3 separate regions of the Homo sapiens genome follow, and all the other regions are linked to region 3. Evidence: fine-mapped expression QTL. A gene starts in region 3. Each other region holds a variant in brackets. All regions are shown on one strand. Distances are between the middles of the regions.

Region 1 (6,833 bases), 24 kb after region 3:
CAAAGTGCTGGGATTACAGCCGTGAGCCACCACGCCTGGCCAAATTTTTTAGTAGAGACAGGGGTCTCGCTGTTGGCTAGGCTAGTCTTGAACTCCTGAGCTCAAGTGATCCTCTCACCTCAGCTTCCCAAAGTCCTTGGATTACAGGCGTGAGCCATAGTGCCTAGTCGATTCTCTCTTTTCTAAACCTCAACGCAGGAGGTTGGAAAAGGAGTGGGTGGAGACCCCTGATGCAAGGTAAGCTCTAGCTTCTGGACATGACACCATAATTCTCAGAAACTCTCTTATGGATTCTCTTCCCTCACACCACCAACCAACGGGCACAGGGTCCCCAGAGACCAGAGCCAGGAGCCCCTTTCAGCCTGGAGGCACCCTGAGGGGAGGCACTGGTCTTGTGACTCTCTGGGTTGTCCCCATCCTTCTCTCTGGCCCCCGCCGAGGGGCACCAGGAATTAGCACACACCCTTCTTCCCTCCTGGGACCTGGGTGAAGGACTGCATTCTTCGCACCACACCTTCAGTGGACTTCACTGCACCTGCAACCAACCAAGATCCCTTTGCCTTTCAGGTGTCTGGGCCTCCTGCCTGGATTTCGGGAACCTCCCTTCCCATGTCCTTACGAGTCCCTGCAAACTAGTGTATGCTCAGGGTTTCCTGCACACAAATCTCTACGTAAGGTTACATGAACTTTCACTGGCTGATAAGGCCAGACCTCTGAGCCACAGGGCAGAATCAAGCAGAAGAAAACAAGTTGGTACCAGGAAGACATTTCCAGACCATTCCAGAGCTGGCTGACTCTTAATGTGGAAACAAGTTTTGGCTACAGACATTCAGGTTTAAGGCACATACCACAAATTACAAGAAGCCCTGTCACTGACAGGGAACTGGCTTTGTTCTCGTGGTTTCTGCAAGGAAGATGGAAGGAATGACTTTCTGGCCCTTTTTTTTTGTTTTTTCTAAAAAGGAGTGAGTTTGGCAGTAACAAAGCTCGTGACACACTCACCAGATGCACAGGCTACCTTCTCAGGCACGCCTCCCTTTCTCTCCTCAGCGAGGACACGGTGCTTCACCCACCCAGTCGCCCTCACCAGAAATGTGTATGCAGCAAACAGACTTGTATGCCTCTGTCTGGCAATGACTGTAAGAAAAGAAAATATGCCTCCAAATAAAAATATACAATTACATGACGAAATGAAGCCAAGTCTTAGCCACAGGCAAAGGGGAATGATTGCATGAGTCAGAAAAATGAAACATCTATTTTAGCAGCAAGAGGCTGTGAGGGATGGGGTAGAAAAGGCATCCTGAGAGAGTTCTAGACCGACCCAGGTCCTGTGGCACACTATACGGGTCAGGAGGGGTGGAAGACAGGCCTAAGCTCTAGGACGGTGAATCTCGGGGCTATTTGTGGATTTGTTAGAAACAGACATTCTTTTGGCCTTTTCCTGGCACTGGTGTTGCCGGCAGGTGGGCAGAAGTGAGCCACCAGTCACTGTTCAGTCATTGCCACCACAGATCTTCAGCAGAATCTTCCGGTAATCCCCTGAAGTATCTCCCTGGCCACAGAAACAAGGAAGACATCCGTTAAGGGAGGGACAGTCACTTTCAGCCTTCTGGGTCCTGATATTCAGCCCTGAGCACCCTTATAGGGAGAAAGCCCCACCCTGGGGAATTTTCTCCCACTGCAGGTCCTGCAGCAGGCGTCACAGACCTTAAAAAATGCAGTTCAGCCTTCTCCAGGCCCCCATCAGAAGACGGAAAGCAGCACTCACCCCAGCTATCCACATCAAATGAATACCCACAAAAAAAAATTATAATCATCCTAAAAACCACTTCCCAGGGCTAACCAATATTGCTGTTTTCCCAGTGCATTTATGCTGCCTTAAATTGGGGTTACCAATGTAACGCAACACAGTGTCCTGCTCAGGAAATGCAATCTCCTCACACATGACTGTCCAGTGGAAGGCTCAGACTGCCCAGGTCCCAGGGATCTCTCCTCTGTCTGAGGCCACTACACTTACTCTAAGAGTGCAGGCTCGGCTTGGCTCATTTCTAATCATTTCCTTCCACCCTAAGCAACTTGAGGGCAAGGCATGTGGCTTCTTCCAGATGTCCATAGCTTGCTGGCATGCAGGAGATACTCTGTAATGAATTATTAACTCTCTTTTTTTTTTTGAGACGAAGTCTCACTCTGTCACCAAGACTGAAGTGGAATGGCGTGATCCCAGCTCACTGCAACCTCTGTCTCCCGGGTTCAAGCAATTCTCCTGCCGCAGCCTACCTAATTAGCTGGGATTACAGGCAAGCCCAGCTAATTTTGTATTTTTAGTAGAGACAGGGTTTTACCTTGTTGGCCAGGCTGGTCTCGAACTCCTGACCTCAAATGATCCACCTGCCTCAGCCTCCCAAAGTGCTGGGATTACAGGCGTGAGCCACTGTGCCCAGCCTAGAATCACTAATTCTCTAACAACAGCTTCATTCATACAGCCAAGGAAACACAGTGAGTTTCCTGTGATGACATGCCCACCATCATCAAATGCTACTGAGTCTAAGGTGGGAGGACGTGGTCCCCATGGTGCAATTGCAAGGCTCATGTGAGTTCAGAATTTGAGCGTTAGACCACACAGCTGAGAATGTATTTTGTCAGACTGGCTCTGCCACACAGCGATACAACTGTGGCTAGTGTTTAATAGACACTTGACCTGCACTGCCTCACTCAATACTCACAACATTCCCAGGAAGGAACGATTATTTTCTCATCTTAAAGACAATGGAGCTGGGGTTCAGGGAGATTTAAGGGAGCCATTCAAGGTCACACAGTTAGCAAGTAGAAAAGCTGGACTCCAAGTGGCGTGACCCCCAGGGCCCTCGCTCTGAACGGCCTTACTATGTGGCCTACGCCATAAAGCTGAGTGCAGGAAGTGCTTTGTCAGGGAGTGACAGCAGAGCTCCACAGAGCCTTTGGGACATGAGTTCTCACTGACAGATCAAGGAATCACACGGTGATCGGAACGCTGAAGGTCACGGTCAAGGTTGGGGAGGTCCCGAGTGTTCTCTGATGCTGCTGGGGGATGCAAGGTGGGGGCGACAGCAAGGTCATGATCCACCTGCCCTCAGAAATTTATAATCTGTTTAAGGGCAAGGGGATGAACAAGTCCGAGGTCCATAATCAAGATGCCCACACACAGCACAGAGGCCAAGCATATGGCCACTCCAAGGAGGGAGGTTCCACAGGTGACTGAGATGCCAAAAGGGAGCCCAGTTGGCCTGCAGCAGGCCCGTACCGAGATGTCGTGGTACAGCGACTTGCCGTACATCCGCTTATACTCTGATCTGATGTCCAGGAGGTCGGTCTCGCTGCGAGACACCATGATGCGAATCAGGGTCCGGTCCTTTGTTCCTGCCCCCTAAAGAGAGTCCACCCAAGAGCATGAGCACCAGGCCTCCTCACCTTCCCACCTGCCCTGGGCCCTCCAGTCCCCTCCCTACCCAGGTCCTCGGAACTCTCAGCTGAGATTTAGCTCTCCCCAGGCCTTCTGCCCTCAGCCCTTGGTCCCAGGCACAGGCGAGGCTAAGGTTCCATCGCAACCTGCAC[A/G]TGGAAGTTACATACCCTCATGGCCTTGTTGAGCCTCTCCGCAAAGAAGGCTGGGGTATTCTTGAGACATTTCACTAGAAGAGAGAAACTCGGCATAACCAGATCTGCAGAAAATTCTCAGCCCAAGCAGGGCATGGAGTCTACAAGTGTCCTCTTAGAGGCCCAGATGTCAAACCCATCACTGCATCCATCTTTTCTCCTCCTCCTTCTGTTCCAGGCTCAACTATCCCATGATCTTGGCTCCAGCTATTTGGAACAGAAACACGCAAAGCCTGGAAACCAACCCACCCTCTTTCCTGGCAACCACTGCGGTGAAAGGACCAAGAGTCAGAGGGGCGGGGGTCTTAGTGGGGCTAGGAGCTACACAGGGAAGCAATGTGGATGGTGATGAGGAACTGTGCTGCTGCTCAGGCAGGAGGGGCAGACTGGAGAGGCCATGACCGTCATGGAGAAACCGTGGCTGAGTGGAATGTGCATCTCCCTAGGCTTCCCAGGCCATGAGACCTACTATGGGGGACAGGCAGGGAAATGAGGATTTTCCATCTCTCCCATCCAGAAAGCTCCAAAAAAAGCATAATGAAAAAAGGGGCAGACTGATTTTCCCAAGTGAGTAGAAAGAGGGGTTGTGAGGGCCTCAGGGCAGGGACCCAACTCTGCACAGTGGGAGGGCCCTGCTAGAGGACATGGGCAATGTAAGAGGCACACCACCATCCTGGAGCCAAGCCAGCTTTCCTCAGCATGGGCCTGTTTCGCTGCTGCAAGTAAAAATCTTTCCACGTGTTTCCATCACAAACATCTGACAACTGCCTGCAGGGATGTATTTTTAGAGGAAACGTGGCAGGATATGAGTCATACTCCTCCGGGAGCGCAGTTGGATGCCCTCCCACTAATACCCACACTGCAGTTCCCTACTCCAGAGCTGCACCGCAAACACACACAAGACACCTCCAGGACAGCTAGGGGTTCAACTGCACAGGGAACCGGGAAGCAGCATGACTTCCCAGCATCTGGACACTCTGGGCTGAGCGATCTTGGATCCTGTGGTCCCTTCACGGTGTCACCCATCAGCTGGAGGACAGGCGAGCAGCCTGAACACTCACGATACACGTTAGCCCCTGGCAGGTGGGCGGCAAACCTGAGACACTTACCCACGGCCAGCATGCCCTCCTCCAGGTCCCCGGACATCTCCCGGCAGATGCTCTTCTCAATGTCCCGGCCTGTCATTCTCTGGTACTCATTGAAAACTATGGGGATGACAGAGGCTTATATTATGAACTGAAATGTGTCTCCCCAAAGTTCATATGTGGAAGTCCCAACTCCCAGGACTTCAGAATATAACCGTGTTTGGAGATAAGATCTTTAAAGAGGTAATTAAGTTAAAACATGCTGCTAGGGTGTACCCTAATCCAATTCGCCTGGTCTCCTTAGAAGAAGAGAAGATTAGGACACACACAGAGATCCCAGGGATGTGCACATGCAGAGGAAAGACCATGTGAGCACAGTGATTGTCACGAAGAGGCCACGGGAGAAACCGGCACCCCACTCTTGGATATCTGGCCTTCAAAACTGTAACAAAATGAGTATCTGCTGCTTAAGCCACCCAGTCTGTGGTATTTTGTCATGGCAGCATGAGCAGACTAACAGAGGACTCACATGAGGTGGCCTCTGCCCCAAAATCTCCCACCTGCCACTCTGCTCCCACACCCTGCACGTCCCCAGGCCTGCTAGCGCTCAAGGAAGTCAGAGTCTTCGTCACAAGTTACATGCACCACCTGATGTCCCTCCCTGTGTGGTCCCTTTCTCAGGACTGCCAATCTGCTTAACCAAATCGCACCTTAATACCCCTCCAGGGCCCACTCCCATGTACTCCAAGACAGTGTCCCCTCTTCTCAAATCCTCCACACCTCCAGTCTCTGCCATTCCTTGGCTTTATTCATGCATCCATCTGTCTTCCTCAGCCTGCCTGTGAGCTGAGGCCCAGCCTGCCCCAGCCAGCCTGGCTTCTTGCTGCTCACCTCGACCTAGGACACGCTAAGCACCCACAGGAGTGGATGGCTGGCTCCTAGAGAGACAGGTGGCATGATGGAGACCTTGGTCCTGACTCCAGTTCTGACCCAGGACATAAAACTCTCCTTCCCCAGCCTGAGTCTCAGCTACCATTTGCATTTTAAAGTTGTGATTTCTGCTCTGTGTGTATCTGTCTCAATTAATATCTTCTTCCAATCAGCTACTCTTTTCTCCTAAGTAATAATGTTTGTGAAGCCATGGGCTTGATGCACTACTTACATGTTCTGTACTCATTAAAAGAAATAATGATTAAGATGAAAATGCTTTCACTCAGGCTCCATTACAGGATAGTGCAGAGGTTAAAAAGTGTGCTCTGGGGTCGGGTGGTCTGGGTTCAAATCCCAGCTCAGCTGTTACTAGCTGTGCACCCCTACTTCCTCTACCACCCTGTGCCTGCTTTCACAGCTGCGAATGGGGAGAGCCACAGCGCCTGTCTCTGTGTGCAGCACAGAGCGGTCGCTGGGTTTTCACCCTCACTGCCCACTGGAGCAGCCCTGGCCACAGCCCACCAGTTGCTCCGTGTGGTCACCATCCTCAGTCCTTGCCTGCCACCTCACACTGGCCTCCAGGACCCCCTTCCTCTGCGTCCTCCTCCCTCCCTAGCTGCTCCTTCTTAGTCTCCTCACACCGGTGGGCTCCCCACAGTCTCCCTCCTGAGGGGACCTCCTGCAGTCCCAGAGCCTCAGATAACTTCAACTACCCATAGCTCCCTTACCTTCCACAACCAGGCCAGACCTCTCCTGACCTCCACACTCAGCAACCCAGCAGCCTCCCTGCAGCTCCACCCTACAGGCACCTAAAGCCAGCTCCACCTACAGTCCCCCTGTCTCAGTTGAGGGCCATTCTCCCACTGCTTGGCCTAAAGAAACCCTGTATAATCCTCGAACCCTCTCTCTCCCACACGTCACGTGTCCAATTCATCAGCAAACATGGCCGGAACCTGACACCTCCTCACCACAAGCCCCTATTACCACCATTCCTCCCCGGGTCCCTGCAGCAGCCTCCCGACAGGCTTCGCTGCTTGGCCTTGCACCCTTCACTCCATTCTCGGCACCACAGCCAGGGATTCTGCACAGCCTCCTCTGCTCAGGGCCCTCCACTGGCTTCCTCTTTTGCTCAGGATAAATACCCAGCTCCGGGAAGTCATCAGCAGGGCCCTCTCCCCTCTCTGCCCT
Region 2 (6,833 bases), 41 kb after region 3:
GGAGGCTGGGAGAGCCCAGGCAGGCTCTGCCCTCCCAAGTTCACCATCATGGAGCAGGAGGACAGACAAGGACAGACTGTTGTGGGACACCATGCTGAGCCCATGACAGAGGTGACCATAGGGAGCTCTGAGATTTCAGTAATGCGAAGGCACTGGCGGGAGGGGGTTTGGCTGTTTGCTATTACAAGTCTGTAAAAGGCAGGGAGAAGCAGGATAAGAGGCTGGAGGGACATGGGGCTGGGTCATGGTAAACACAGATACCAGTCCACAAGAGGACAGGAAGAAACAGAGGTGAAAAGCCCGCTCTGAAACCAGCAGGACCGGTATGTGCCCTGGGGCAAGGCTTTCACCCTCCTTAGGCTTGTTTCCTCAGCTTACAAATGGGCTAATGGTGAGTGTATGCCTAGACTGCTGTGACGAAGACTGAGTTAACACCTGCAGGGCTCAGCTGGGTGCCCGATGGGCATTCGACATCATCATGGGGCCTCTGGCCTGTTAGATGCTTTCCTCTACATGGCAGCTTCGGATCGGCTCTTCATCTCCAGGGCTCCAGACCCTCCAGGAAGAACCTTCCCTAAATTTCCTGCCTCCTCCTCTCTTGCTGCTCAGAGGCTGCTCAGCTGTGCTAGCAAAGGTGGCAGTGGCAGGATCTGGATGGCAGGATTTCTACTATAGAGAGAGAACCCAGGCCAGTGCCAGCCAACCTGGGGTGGGCTCATTCAGAGGGCAGTGGCCCAGCTCAGCCCCTAACATGCCCTGGGACAGCAGCTGAGCCACCTCTAGGTCTGAGTCTGTTCTTCACCTGCTGAATGGGAGGGAAGGTAAATGGCCTGCAGGTCTGGGGTGTTCAAACCACAGGACCTCAGCTCCAAAGAAATCAATGATGCCTAGGAGTCCCCTGGGGAGAGGGGCAGCGGCTCAGGCACCCTCAGGATGACCAGCCTTGGAATGACCCTTTTCTCCCCTTGGTCTCATGAGCCCTCATATTTCCTTTCCCACAGTGGGGACCAAATCTCATTTGAGGACCAAAAGGGGCCAGGGCCAGAGAAGACGACTTCTCCATGTGACTACCCACAGCTCCTGCAGAAAACAGGGAGTGACCTTTGACCCTTAGCATCTGCCTCCACTTCCTCTCTTGGCAAGGGGGATCTTGTTGCTGCAAACCCACACACCTTGAGCAGAGGGTAGGAGAGGTGGTAAGGGGCAACCATCACCTAGCAATGCTTTGGAGGACACCGTGTCGCTCTGCCTGCCTATCTCATCAGTATCCAGGACCACCTAATGAGGGAGAAATCCTTGAAGCAATTTTGCGGAGAAGAAAACTGAGTCTCAAAGTGACAGCATTTGCCCACTGTTACTAGAGAGTAAGGCAAGAGACCCAGCCCTGGGCCTGGTCCAGGGCTTTCTGGAGGCAGTTTCAAACCTAGGCCTCCGATGGCCTTAGTGTCATGCTCTTCTCCAGCCCCTGCCTCGGCTGGCTGTCCCACTACTCCTGTTGTCCTCTCCTCCCCTGCTGGGCCGTGCTGTGAGGGGAGGAGGGGAGTGAGGAAACTACTGTTCTCCCCTCTCCACTCCCAGCCACTGTACAGAGGCAGCATTCACTCTCCTCCCCACCCCAGACCCTCTTACCTGGTGCAGCTGGTGGGTAGCCACCTGGGGGCGGGGGATAGCCAGGGTAGCTCATGGTTAGATCTGGAAGAGAAGACGAAAGCACATTCAGGCTCTGCCTGAGAGCCCCTGCTGGCCCGTGGGACCCAGCTTCTTGAAAGGGCAGCCACCACCACAACTGGGACCCTGCAGAAGAAACTGCTGCATCTGCCCTGCTTGTCGCAGACCAGTTCACTGTCTCCTGCTGGTGCCTCCAGCTAGAAACAGTACCCACCAGCATGCTGCCTGACTTCTGGGCCAGGGCCACACCCCCGGCCCCACCCACAGTGACAGGATTCACTCCCCATGAGCCAGTTTCCTTGAAAGGCCCTCTCACTGAAGCTTTGCTCCTGCCTCTGCTGGCAAGGGTGCAGTGCGCCTCTGGGCCTGTTCTCCCACCTCAGAGGTAGAGACGCACTGCCTCATTCTCAGGACTCCAGGTCTGTCTATTTATCTTCCTGTGTCCTTATTGCCATCCCTCCAGCAACAGGGGAAGTCAGAGGCCCCTGTCTCTCTTCATTCTCCAACCTCTGGTTCATCAGGCAAGGGGACCTGGTAAGGTATGGAATCATCGTTCCTAGAAGCAAAAAGGGCCCTCAGGAGGTTCATCTGATGCAGGGTGAAGAACCAGGGCAAATGAGGCAGCATCACCCTGTTTCTGCAGTAGAGGCTGCTGATTAAGAGAAGTAAGTGATTTGCAGATCTGTCAGTAAGGGAGGAAGAGC[A/G]GCCTGGACAGGTGCCAGGTGAGACACCTGCTCTCACGAAGTCCCTCTGAACACGGATCCCTTGGCAATGTCCCCTGCCAGTTAAATTGTGAGGAGGGACACAGATCTGCTGTGACACCAGCCACATTGTGCAACCTGCCTGCTCTTGCTAATAGCAGCTGCTGCTGCAGTCTGCAGAGACACCCAATGGCAGGCGGACATGTGAGGAAACCTGCAGGGTCCCTCAACAATCACACCTGCTCGTCTCGAGTATGTGGCTTCTTTTTACACACTGGGTTTCACGCTGCAATGCATATCAGAATCACCTGATGGGATTGTTAAAACACATTGCTGGGCTCCACCACCAAGAGTTTCTGAGACAGTGGAACCAGTTTTTGCATTTGGAACAAGTTTCCAGATGATGTTACTGGTCCAGGGAACTCACTTTGAAGACCACTGTTCTAGCCACGCTATCCAACTATAAGAGTCTAGCTGCCCTTCATATCTATCTTGAAGAACTGGGCATATTGGGTTTTGTTTGTTTGAGACAGGGTCTCGCTCTGTCACCCAGACTGGAGTGCACTGGCACAATCATGGCTCACTGCAGCCTGGACCTCCTGGGCTCAGGTAATCCTCCCGCCTCAGCCTCCTAAAGACATGTGCCACCACACACAGCTAATTTTTTTTTTTGAGAGTCTTACTATGTTGCCGAGGCTGGTATATGCTGTTCTTTTTAAGTTTTTTTATTATTTATTTTTATTTTTTTGAGACAGGGTCTCACTCTGTAACCCAGGCTGGAGTGCAATGGTGTGATCTCGGCTCACTGCAACCTCTGCCTCCTGGGTTCAAGTGATTCTCCTGCCTCAGCCTCCCAAGTAGCTAGGATTACAGGCGCCCGCCATCATGTCTGGCTAATTTTTGTATTTTTAGCAGAGACAGGGTTTCACCATGTTGGCCAGGCTGGTCTCGAACTCCTGACCTCAGGTGATCTGCCTGCCTCGGCTTCCCAAAGTGTTAAGATTACAGGCATGAGCCACCATGCCTGGCCTACTTTTATTTTTTAAACAGCGTCTCACTCTATCACCCAGGCTGGAGTGCAGTGGTGCGAGCTCAGCTCACTGTAACCTCCGCCTCCTGGGATCAAGGGATTCTTGTGCCTCAGCCTCCAACAGGAGGGCGCAACCATCCCTGGCTAATTTTTGTATTTTTAGTAGAGATGGAGTTTCGCCATGTTGGCCAGGCTGGTCTGAACTCCTGGCCTCAAGTGATCTGCCCGCTGCGGCCTCCCACAGTGCTGGGATTACAGGCATGAGCCACTGTGCCCAGCCTACATGCTGTTTTTAAGGAAGCTAAAGAACTTCCTTAAGGTACCACCGGTCCCCATAGGGTGGGCCTGGTTTTCAGCCCTACGGGTGTAGTCATTTGTTTGGGTCAGTGGGTCCAGAGGTGACCGTAGGCAAAGCCCTATGGCTTTGGAGAAAGCTGGAATTGGCTCCCTGTAGTGTGGACCAAGGACCTACTCCTTGCAGTTTTCGGTCTCTCTGAGCCCCTAAGCACGTGGTGGATGAGGTCCCCGGTGGCATCACCTTCAGAGAGGGTGTCCCTGAGGCTGGGTGGGCTGTCAGTACAAAGCCCTCCCCGTCCCGGCCCCAGCCTGACCCTTCTGCCCAGACTCTGCCAAACCCTCAGACTTCACTGGTGAGGAGGTAATCTGGGGGATGTAAATGACCAGTAGGCCAGGAACCTTCTAATAGAAGGAACTGCCCGACAGGTGAGCAGGAAGAGCCGGGATGGTGTCTCTGTCACCTTCCTCTCTGGAGACACCACTAGGCAGGACCTTTGAGCACCAAAGACACTCTCCACTCCTGGCCTCCTCTCAGAGAAATGAAGCCAAAAGCTCCATCCACAGCCAGGCCAGGGAAAAAACCCAAGAAACAGAAGCTGGATACCACCCTGTTCCTTATACCAAGTAAATTCCAGCCAGGCCAAATAATGCAGTGAAAGAAGTAGCCCCAAAAACCAACGACATAAATAAAATTTCAGCATAAGAGACAAATTAAAAAAAAATAAAGATGAGAAAAAAACTTAGGAAAAAAGTTTTATTAATATAATAAGAAAAAGATCAATAACCACTAGAGAAACTGTCAAATGATGTGAACAGATCTGGCAGTTACAGAAAAGGAGCTGAAGATGCTCACCTTCACCAATGTGCTGAGGAAATCACCAATTAAAAATACACAGATGTCGGCTGGGCGCAGTGGCTCATGCCTGTAATCCCAGCACTTTGGGAGGCCGAGGTGGGCAGATCACCTGAGGTCAGGAGTTCGAGACCAGCCTGGCCATGGTGAAACACTGTCTCTACTAAAAATACAAAAATTAGCCAGGCGTGGTGGTGGGTGCCTGTAATACCAGCTACTCGGGAGGCTGAGGCAGGAGAATGGCTGGAACCTGGGAGGCGGAAGTTGCAGTGAGCCAAGATTATGCCACTGCACTCCAGCCTGGGTGACAGAGCGAGACTCCGTCTCCAAAATAAATAAATAAATAAAATACAAAGATATCAAAACTTAAAATGACATACCTTTGACTCAGCAACTCCACTTCTGTAAGTCTCTTCCCCAGACACACACCTGTGTGAAATGTCATACAGACATGAATTTTACTACAGCCTTATCTGCAACAACTCCTAAACCTCCACCAATGAGGCTGGTTAAATAAACCACAACAGATCCAACAATGGATACTCTGTAGCTATTTCTGGATTTAGCCAGCTCTGTATATGGAAAGATGCAATGACCACCATTATTAATCAAGGTGCAGTACTGTGTATGTACTAAGCTAATAAAAAACCCAGAAACATACAAACTAAGTGGTTCCTGAGTGTAGACGTGCACGGACATCCTTGGAATGACACACAAGAAACTAGCTAACACTAGCTGCCTCTCGAGAGGAAAGGTGGGGCTAGAAAATGAGGCTTCCGGTTTAGATCTGTTCCCTGTGCATTTCTGCTGCATGTATGTATTGGCCATTAAACAACTTTTAAAAAGGCCCAATTCAGGTGCAGATTTCTGAGCTCACTTGAGGCTAGCCGTCTGGCCCCCAAAGTCCTGGCTGGTCTTCCAAGACTAAAAGAACACACACAGGGTCCATTCAGTTCCAGGCAGCCTTGGTAACCCTGGAGGGCCTGCAGGCCAGCCTTGATGGCGCTCGTGGAGCTCATTCTTGGGGTGGCTTTTAAGGGAGTTCCCAGCAGGAGTCAAAATCTGCCTCCTGGCTAGGAGCTCTGCCCTGCATGGCCCCACAGGGCAGGTCGACCCCACTGTGAGCTGTGGTCCTGCGACCCTGGGTCTTCCCCTCTCCCCAAGATATACCTCTAGTCCTCCGTTCTTAGAAAGAATAGCCTCATTTTTCCCTCTGTCATTCTCTGCCTGAAATAGTTTCAAGCCTGCTCCCCACTTTTTTTTTTTTTTTTGAGACGGAGTCTCACTGTGTCACCCAGGCTGCAGTGCAGTGGCGCAATCTCAGCTCACTGCAACCTCCACCTCCTCGGTGCAAGCAATTCTCCTGCCCTAGCCTCCCAAGTAGCTGGGACTACAGGCACCTGAGGCACCTGCCACCACACCAGGCTGATTTTTGTATTTTTAGTAGAGACAGAGTTTCACTATGTTGGCCAGGCTGGTCTCGAACTCCCAACCTCAGATGATCCGCCCGCCTCAGCCTCCCAAAGTTCTGGGATTACATGCCTGGCCTGACCCCACTCTTATCTTTTAGTTCTTTTCAGGACCAAACGCCCCAGGTATGGTCTGAAGAGTGCAGGGCGGGACCTTCATCTCCCTCCAGTGGATGCTACTCCCTACCTCCCCGGACTGGTACAAGTGGGTTTTCAGGCCACGGAGACCTTATGTGGGCTCCTGTGAAATTTCTCCCCTGGGTTCTGCCCATTGCTCCAGTCTCCTGAGACCTTCTGGGATTCTGCTCAACATCAAACATCTTCCCCCTCTCTCTCAGCTTTGTTTTACATCCATGGATGCAATAAGCATGGCATTTGTGTTCTGCCAAGTAACCAAGACGAAAGGGACAACGAGGGACACTACAGAACTGTCATACTCAGAACTCCCCAGTTCAACATCAAACACTAGGCATCATGTGGGTGCAGGCATTTAACCAGCTCTCCCCCAACTCACTCTGCCACCACCCAGTACACATTTCTCCACATGCCCAAGTGAGGGTTCTAGCACATTTACTCTGAAGAGAGCCTGTTTATCTGCCTAATTACCCCCAGGAGAAAAGTAAACGCAGCCCAATAGCCAGGGGTGACCTTCAGGTGGACACAGGCTCCCAGCGCTGACCAATCTCCCCCCAAGCTATCCATGTTCTAGGAGGCTAGAGGCTGCAGGATTAGCACACTGCTCTCTGACTCACAGAAGCAGCATTCTTCTCCTCCTTTTCTTTGAAAATTAAGAAATCTGCTCATGGTCCAGTCTT
Region 3 (6,833 bases):
CTTAACCTCACTCATAACAAGTAGCATGTAAATAACAATAACAACAAGGTAACATTTTCCATCATCAAGCTGTCAAAATTTTAAATAATAAATATCCAGTGTTGGAGAATGTAGGTGACTGATAGGTTTACACTTCAGGTATCTCCAATCCAGAAGGGTTTTTTTTGTTTTTTTGTTCTGTTTTGTTTTTGAGACGGAGTCTCACTCTGTCACCCAGTGCAGTGGGTGACACTGCAGGAGTGCAGTGGCGCAATCTCGGCTCACGGCAAGCTCCGCCTCCCGGGTTCATGCCATTCTCCTGCCTCAGCCTCCCGAGTAGTTGGGACTACAGGCGCCCGCCACCACGCCCGGCTAATTTTTTGTGTTTTTAGTAGAGACGGGGTTTCACCATGTTAGCCAGGATGGTCTCAATCTCCTGACCTCGTGATCCACCCGCCTCGGCCTCCCAAAGTGCTGGGATTACAGGCGTGAGCCGCCGCGCCCAGCGCAGAAGTATTTTATGTAAATGGCGCCCCCTGCAGCCCAATTCCTACCTAGACTAACATGCTCAGGTGCACCTTGGAACAGCGCTGGAAGACCCCTTGCCCCTCCTGTGGGCTTAGTAACAATTTGGGGAACAGTTTTTGGCCTATCTGGCAAAATGTAAAAGGCCTTTGACGCAATGATTCCTCTTCCAGCCTTTCAGAAATATGTACATACAGGAATATGTACTACGTACATGAAGATATATGCAAAGGAATGTTTATTAAAGCTTATTTTATATTGGAGAGAAAAAGGAAGCAATCTACATGTCTGTCAATAGGGGACTGTTTGGATAAATAATGCTCCTTGTATCCATTCATGGGATATTTTAACTCTTAAAAGGAATGAAGTGGATTTATCTGTACCCACATAGACTGATCTCCAAGATTATTTTCTTTTATTTTAAGATGGAGTCTTGCTCTGTTGCCCAGGCTGGAGTGCAGTGGTGCAATCTTGGCTCACTGCCACTTCCGCCTCCTGGGTTCTGATTCTCCTGCCTCAGCCTCCTGAGTAGCTGGGACTACAGGCGCCCAACACCACGCCCTGCTAATTTTTTGTATTTTTAGCAGAGACGGAGTTTCACCACGTTGGCCAGGTTGGTCTCAAACTCCTGGCCTCAGGTGATCCACCCACCTCGGCCTACCAAAGTGCTGGGATTACAGGCGTGAGCCACTGCACCCAGCCAAGATTTAATGTTATGACTGAGATAAACATGAATGAAAGCAAATCTTCAAAATATCTATGACTTGATCTCATGTATATACATTTGTGTCTGAATATACATTAGGTAGATGGGGAATGCATAGACGTGGAACAGGCAGAGCCTACCAAGTTGAGGGGACTGGACCTGAATCATTGGACGGAGGGAATTCGTAACAGAAAAGACTTTCATGTTTTACTCTGTATACTTAATTACTTTATGCTCTACCGCAACAATAATGTATTGTATATGTTTTTGTGTGTGTGTGTGTTTTCTTAGTCTTAAATTCAAAATATAAGGTAGCCCACTGGCTCTAAGCTACAAGAATCCTTATGAGTTGGGCAGTTCTTTGACAACTTTTTTTCCCACCTGGCGAAACTATCAAGGAATGTCCTACCACCAAGCGTGAGAAATTTTTGGCATTCCTGAAATAAATTCTTCTTCTGAGCCAGCTCATGTGGGCATCATAATCTCCTTGAAGGCTTTTAAAAGATTTAGATCTGAGTCTGTCTCAGATTCTCGGGCTCAGAACCAGAATTTCTCCGTCTGAGGCTACTATCTTGCTCTGGAGGAGGGAGTGAGAACTGGATCACTGGTTAGCGTGGTAACTGTTTTGGACAATTGCATAGCCACAGCCAGGAACACAGAAGGCAGAGAGGCAGCCTTGATCTGCAAGAGCTCCAGGTAATCCCAACGGGGACCCTTGATGGACAAAGGCATTCTCCCAGGCTTGGTGATGAATGTGTTCCACTTACAGCCAGACGAGACACTCACTCAGGGCTCTGCAGCAGAGAAGTTAGAGCTACAGCTTTTTTGCTTTGTGTTTTTACTAAAACTTAATTTGTTGTTGCACTTGTTGGATGGGCATGTCCCATAGGGGAAGTTTCCACTACTGTGCTCTAAACTTTGGGCTGCTTGTACCATCTTACTTATCCCCTCATTAATAATGAATTGAATAAAATCTTTAGTATATGCTAATTTCATATCTTTGCGAGAGTTACGATTTTACCTTTTCTTTTTAAAATTACCTTTTCATATTTCTATCACTCCCTTACCAGAGCAGTGAGTTTCTGGGTCTCCCTCTTAGGGGCAGACACTGTTCCATGTAATTAGAATTAATTTCTTGTTCGTAGGTAGACAGAGAAAAGCTGCCAAACTCCCAGGAGACAGGGGTTCAGATCCTGTGCTATGGCTGAGAGTGATGCCGAGGAAGACACTTCCCTCCGAGTCTTAGTCTGCCCGCCTGTGAAACTGGCTCGTAACAAACCCCTGACCCCAGGCTCGGTCGCCTTGAGCCCAAGACCTCACCCAATGCCCCCCGCCCCGCCTTCCCTCCCGGGCTCCCAGGAGGTGCGGGGACTCGGGGGGCGGCCCCTTCCTCGGGAGGCGCCCAGGTGGCACGTCGGTGCCTCAGCTCCCGGGGTCTCTGGGCTCCGCGCTGCCCACGGGGTGCCGAGGGGCCTCTGGAGGGGGCGGGTTCTCTCGAGCCAGAAAGTCCGGAGCCGCCCAGGAATTTTGGCTCGAACTGAGTGCATTTCCTCTCGGGCCGGCCGGGTGCGATCCGGGAAGGGCGGCTGCGGGCAGACGCGGCGCTGCGCTCGGCCAGGCCGGCACCATGCGGCCCCTGCTCTGCGCGCTGACCGGACTGGCCCTGCTCCGCGCCGCGGGCTCTTTGGCCGGTGAGTGGGGCGCAGGGCGCGGCAGGGGACCTGGAGCCGGGGAGACCCGCAGATGGCGAGGAAGGAATGAGCGAGAGAGACGGAGAGAGAGCTGGACACAGCAGCGAGATGGACAGAGAGGCAGATGCAGGGAGGGAGGGATGGAGAGAAAGATTGAGAGGAAACAGACTCAGAAAAAGGCAGAGAAGTAGAGCAACGGAGAGATAAAGGAGATAGGGAAGAATACACAGTGAAAAGGAAAAAGGAGAGGCTGAGACAGAAAGAGGCTTCCCCTGAACAGATATGAACTAAGATAGAAAGAAAAAGGAGTTTGAGAGACAAAAGAGAAGAAGGAAAGAGAAAAAGTGATTAAAATGGCAAGGGGTGGAGGGAGAGAGGATATTGAAGAAAAGAGAAAGATTTGAGAGAGACCAAAAAGGAGAGAGAGGGAAGCTCGATGCCCGGAGTAGAGCTGGCAAGAGAGAAGGAGCCAGGATCTGGAGTGGGAGGTCACAGCTGCTGGGTGGGGCAGCCCCGGAGGCCAGCTCCATCTCAGAGGGCCTGTGGAGGCTCAGGCCTGGCTTTATAGGACATTGCATAAGAAGCCACACTCCAAAGGATGAGTGACCCAGGCTAGCCCAGCACAGCCTTAAGGAACCAGGCAGTCGGGCCCAGGAGAAAGGCCACCGATTCACCTGCCAGGTGGCCTCAGGTGGATCTGCAGTCAGTGAAGAAGTCAGCCTCCCGGTTTCCAGGGAGCTTCTCTGGGAAACTGAGCTATGTTGGGTGGAGATGGGGGACTGGGTGGAGGTGGAGAGCTGTGCGGAGGAGAGAGGCTGTCTGGGTACTCCATTAGCTGGGTTCCTTGCTTTTCACTGTCCGCTTTCTTCCCCTCACCTACCCCTCAGGCGGGCGGATCACAAGCTCAGGAGATCAAGACCAGCCTCGCTAACATGGTGAAATGCTGTCTCTATTAAAAATACAAAAAATTAATCGGGCGTGGTGGCACATGCCTGTAGTCCCAGCTACTCGGCAGGCTGAGGCAGGAGAATCACTTGAACCTGGGAGGCGGAGGTTGCAGTGAGCCGAGATCAAGCCACCGCAATCCAGCCTGGGTGACAGAGCAAGACTCAGTTTCAAAAAAAAAAAAAAAAGAAGAAGGAAAGGAGGAAAGTATTCATGTATTAGTGTAATTTCACACTGATTTCATATATTTTTGTGCATAATCTTTCAGATTTTAGATGATATATCTTAACTTTTGATTATGAAAACTTTTGGATACAAAAAAATACAAAGTAATAGTATGTGAAAGAATCATGTAATATACTTATCAACGCTGCTTCAAGAAGTATCAGTTCATGGGCAGTTTTATCTCATCTATAGCCTCCACCCTCTCTCCCCTCCCTGGATTATTTTAAAGGAAATCCAGGCATTGTATATTTTCTTTCTTTCTTTCTTTCTTTTTTTTTTTTTTTTGAGACAGGATTTCATTCTGTCACCCATGCTAGAATGCAGTGGCACAATCTCAGCTCACTGCAACCTCCGTCTCCCGGGTTCAACTGATTCTCCTGCCTCAGCCTCCTGAGTAGCTGGGACTACAGGCACGCACCACCACACCTGACTAATTTTGGTATTTTTAGTAGAGATAGGGTTTCACCATGTTGGCCAGGCTGGTCTCGAACTCCTGGGCTCAAGTGATCCACCTGCCTTGGCCTCCCAAAGTGCTGGGATTACAGGTGTGAGCCACAATGCCTGGCCTGGCATCATGTATTTTCATCTATAAATATTTCTTTGTGTACCTCTAAGAGATAAGCACTCTTAATAAACATAACTGCAATGCTATGATCATACTCCAAAAACTGTGTGTGATTGAATATCATTAAATATTCAATCACTGTTCAAATGTCCTTGATTGATTGTGTCATATCTTTTTGCAATTCATTTGTTTGATCCAAATAAGGTTACATACACTGCATTTGGTCAATATGTCTGTTAGATCTCTTTAAATATGTAAGTCTTCTCTCCCCTTTTTTTACTTAATTTTTTGTTTTTGTTGAAGAAACTAAGTTTGTCCTGTAAAGTTTTCCACATTTAGATTTTGCTAATTGCATCCCTTTTATGTCATTTAAATACCTCCACCCCTTATATTTTCTATAAATTGAGAGCTATCTCTAGCACGTCCAACTTCCAACCTTGGTTTGTTTGTTTGTTTATTTATTTATTTATTTATTTGAGATGGAGTCTCGCTCTGTCTCCCAGGCTGGAGTGCAGTGGTGCGATCTCCGCTCACTGCAAGCTCCGCCTCCCGGGTTCACACCATTCTCCTGCCTCAGCCTCCCAAGCAGCTGGGACTACGGACGGCTGCAACCATGCCCGGCTAAATTTTTTTTGTATTTTTAGTAGACATGAGGTTTCACTGTGTTAGCCAGGATGGTCTCGATCTCCTGACCTTGTGATTTGCCCGCCTCGGCCTCCCAAAGTGCTGGGATTACAGGTGTGAGCCACTGCGCCCGGCCTTTTTTTTTTTTTTTTTTTTTTGAGACAGAGTCTTGTTTTGTCATCCAGGCTGGAGTGCAGTGGTGCGATCTCAGCTCATCACAACCTCTGCCTCCTGGGTTCAAGCAATTCTCGTGCCTCAGTCTCCCAAGTAGCTGGGATTACAGGTGTGCACCACCACACCCAGCTAATTTTTGCATTTTTTAGTAGAGACGGGGGCTGCGGGGGAGTTTCACCATGTTGGCTAGGCTGGTCTCAAACTCCTGACATCAAGTGATCAGCCTGCCCCGGCCTCCCAAAGTGCTGGGATTACAGGCATGAGCCACCGCGCTGGGCCCAAGTCTTGGTTTCTTTTAGCAGCACTCAGAGAAACCTTTATCCCTGATGGCTTTTTAGACCATGAGCCACCACGCCCGGCCCATATTTTGGAGTTTTTTATAAAATCACTTGAAGAATAGTTTTCTGCTGCTTTCAAAAATGATCAAAACCCGTGGATGGTTTTGAGTGAATCATACATTTTAATACAAATATTGGATGTGGTAAATTTATTATTCTATTATGTTGAATGTGGTCAAATATAATTAACCCCCAAGTGGCCAGGGTTGCTTTTCAAAGCAGAGTGTGACTTTGACAATTCAGAAGATACAGCGGCACCTTTCAGATGCCACTGAGAAAACATTTCTCAACCCCCAGCATGCAGAAATCATCTGTGTTGTGGCCCTTTCTTACTGTTTGGGTCCAGATACAAAAGGTCTCCCCATAAGGCCTGTAAGTAGAAGCACCCGTACTTCCGCCTCAGAGGATGGGACCCAGGGGCCACGTCTCTTTAACTGGGGCAGCCAGCCCAGCCGAGCCCTCCTCTGGGGCCTCCGGGCTCCACAGCAGCGTGTTCTCACCAGCACAGGATGCCCCACCCATGGCCACCATCCAGGGTGCACATCAGGCCCCTAGCAGGAGCCGGGCCAGAGAAAACAACGCAGCATCCAAGGAGGTCCATTTCCCAACTGGCAGGGCCTGGGAGAGCGGGAGGAAAGGAAGGAAGGGAGCCCTGAGGAGCCACAGCCTTGGCTGCTCAGGGTTAATCATCATAATCCTTCAGTCTTTTCCACTCCCCTTGTCTGAGCCACTGACAGCCCTGTGGTGCATGTGCGTGTCTACTATTTTTTATTCATTTATTTATTTTCTTACAAGACACAGTCTTTCACTGTCACCCTGGCTGCAGTGCAGTGGTGCAATCGTAGCTGACTGTAGTCTCAAACTCCTGGGCTCAAGCGATTCTCCCGCCTCAGCTTTCCAAATACCTGAGACTACAAGTATATACCACCAATCCTGGCTAATTTTTTTTTAATTTTTATTTTATTTATTTATTTATTTATTTATTTATTTATTTTTGTAGAGACAGAGTCTCACTATGTTGCCCAGAGTGACCTCAAACTTCTGGCTTCAAGCGATCCTCT

Alleles and levels. Positions count from the first base shown, and alleles are read on the strand shown. Sizes are in standard deviations (SD) of each study's normalised expression.
As copies of A replace G in region 1, the expression in pancreas of the gene that starts at base 2,805 in region 3 goes down (moderate effect, 0.47 SD a copy in GTEx).
For the expression in prefrontal cortex of the gene that starts at base 2,805 in region 3, allele A in region 2 goes with a higher level than allele G (moderate effect, 0.59 SD a copy in GTEx).

What was found.
Region 1: its variant is fine-mapped to the expression of PLAC9 in pancreas (GTEx, PIP 0.98).
Region 2: its variant is fine-mapped to the expression of PLAC9 in prefrontal cortex (GTEx, PIP 0.98).

The regions. Positions count from the first base shown.
Region 1 is chr10:80,154,361-80,161,193 of GRCh38, forward strand. ANXA11 (annexin A11) reads right to left here. Exons shown (of 16, transcript NM_145868.2): 13 at 4,740-4,835; 14 at 3,607-3,665; 15 at 3,281-3,403; 16 at 1-1,552. The coding sequence ends at 1,493. Among named protein-coding and RNA genes, the nearest start is that of PLAC9, 25 kb to the left of the region's middle. RefSeq lists enhancers at 3,822-5,021, 4,119-4,660. The variant A/G (reference allele first, on the strand shown) is at 3,592.
Region 2 is chr10:80,171,178-80,178,010 of GRCh38, forward strand. It overlaps ANXA11 (annexin A11), which reads right to left. Exons shown (of 16, transcript NM_145868.2): 2 at 4,930-4,978; 3 at 1,630-1,692. The coding sequence starts at 1,684. Among named protein-coding and RNA genes, the nearest start is that of ANXA11, 31 kb to the right of the region's middle. RefSeq lists enhancers at 199-1,124, 5,246-5,747, 5,748-6,247, 6,767-6,833. The variant A/G (reference allele first, on the strand shown) is at 2,373.
Region 3 is chr10:80,129,926-80,136,758 of GRCh38, forward strand. PLAC9 (placenta associated 9) reads left to right here and starts at 2,805. Exons shown (of 4, transcript NM_001012973.3): 1 at 2,805-2,901. The coding sequence starts at 2,838.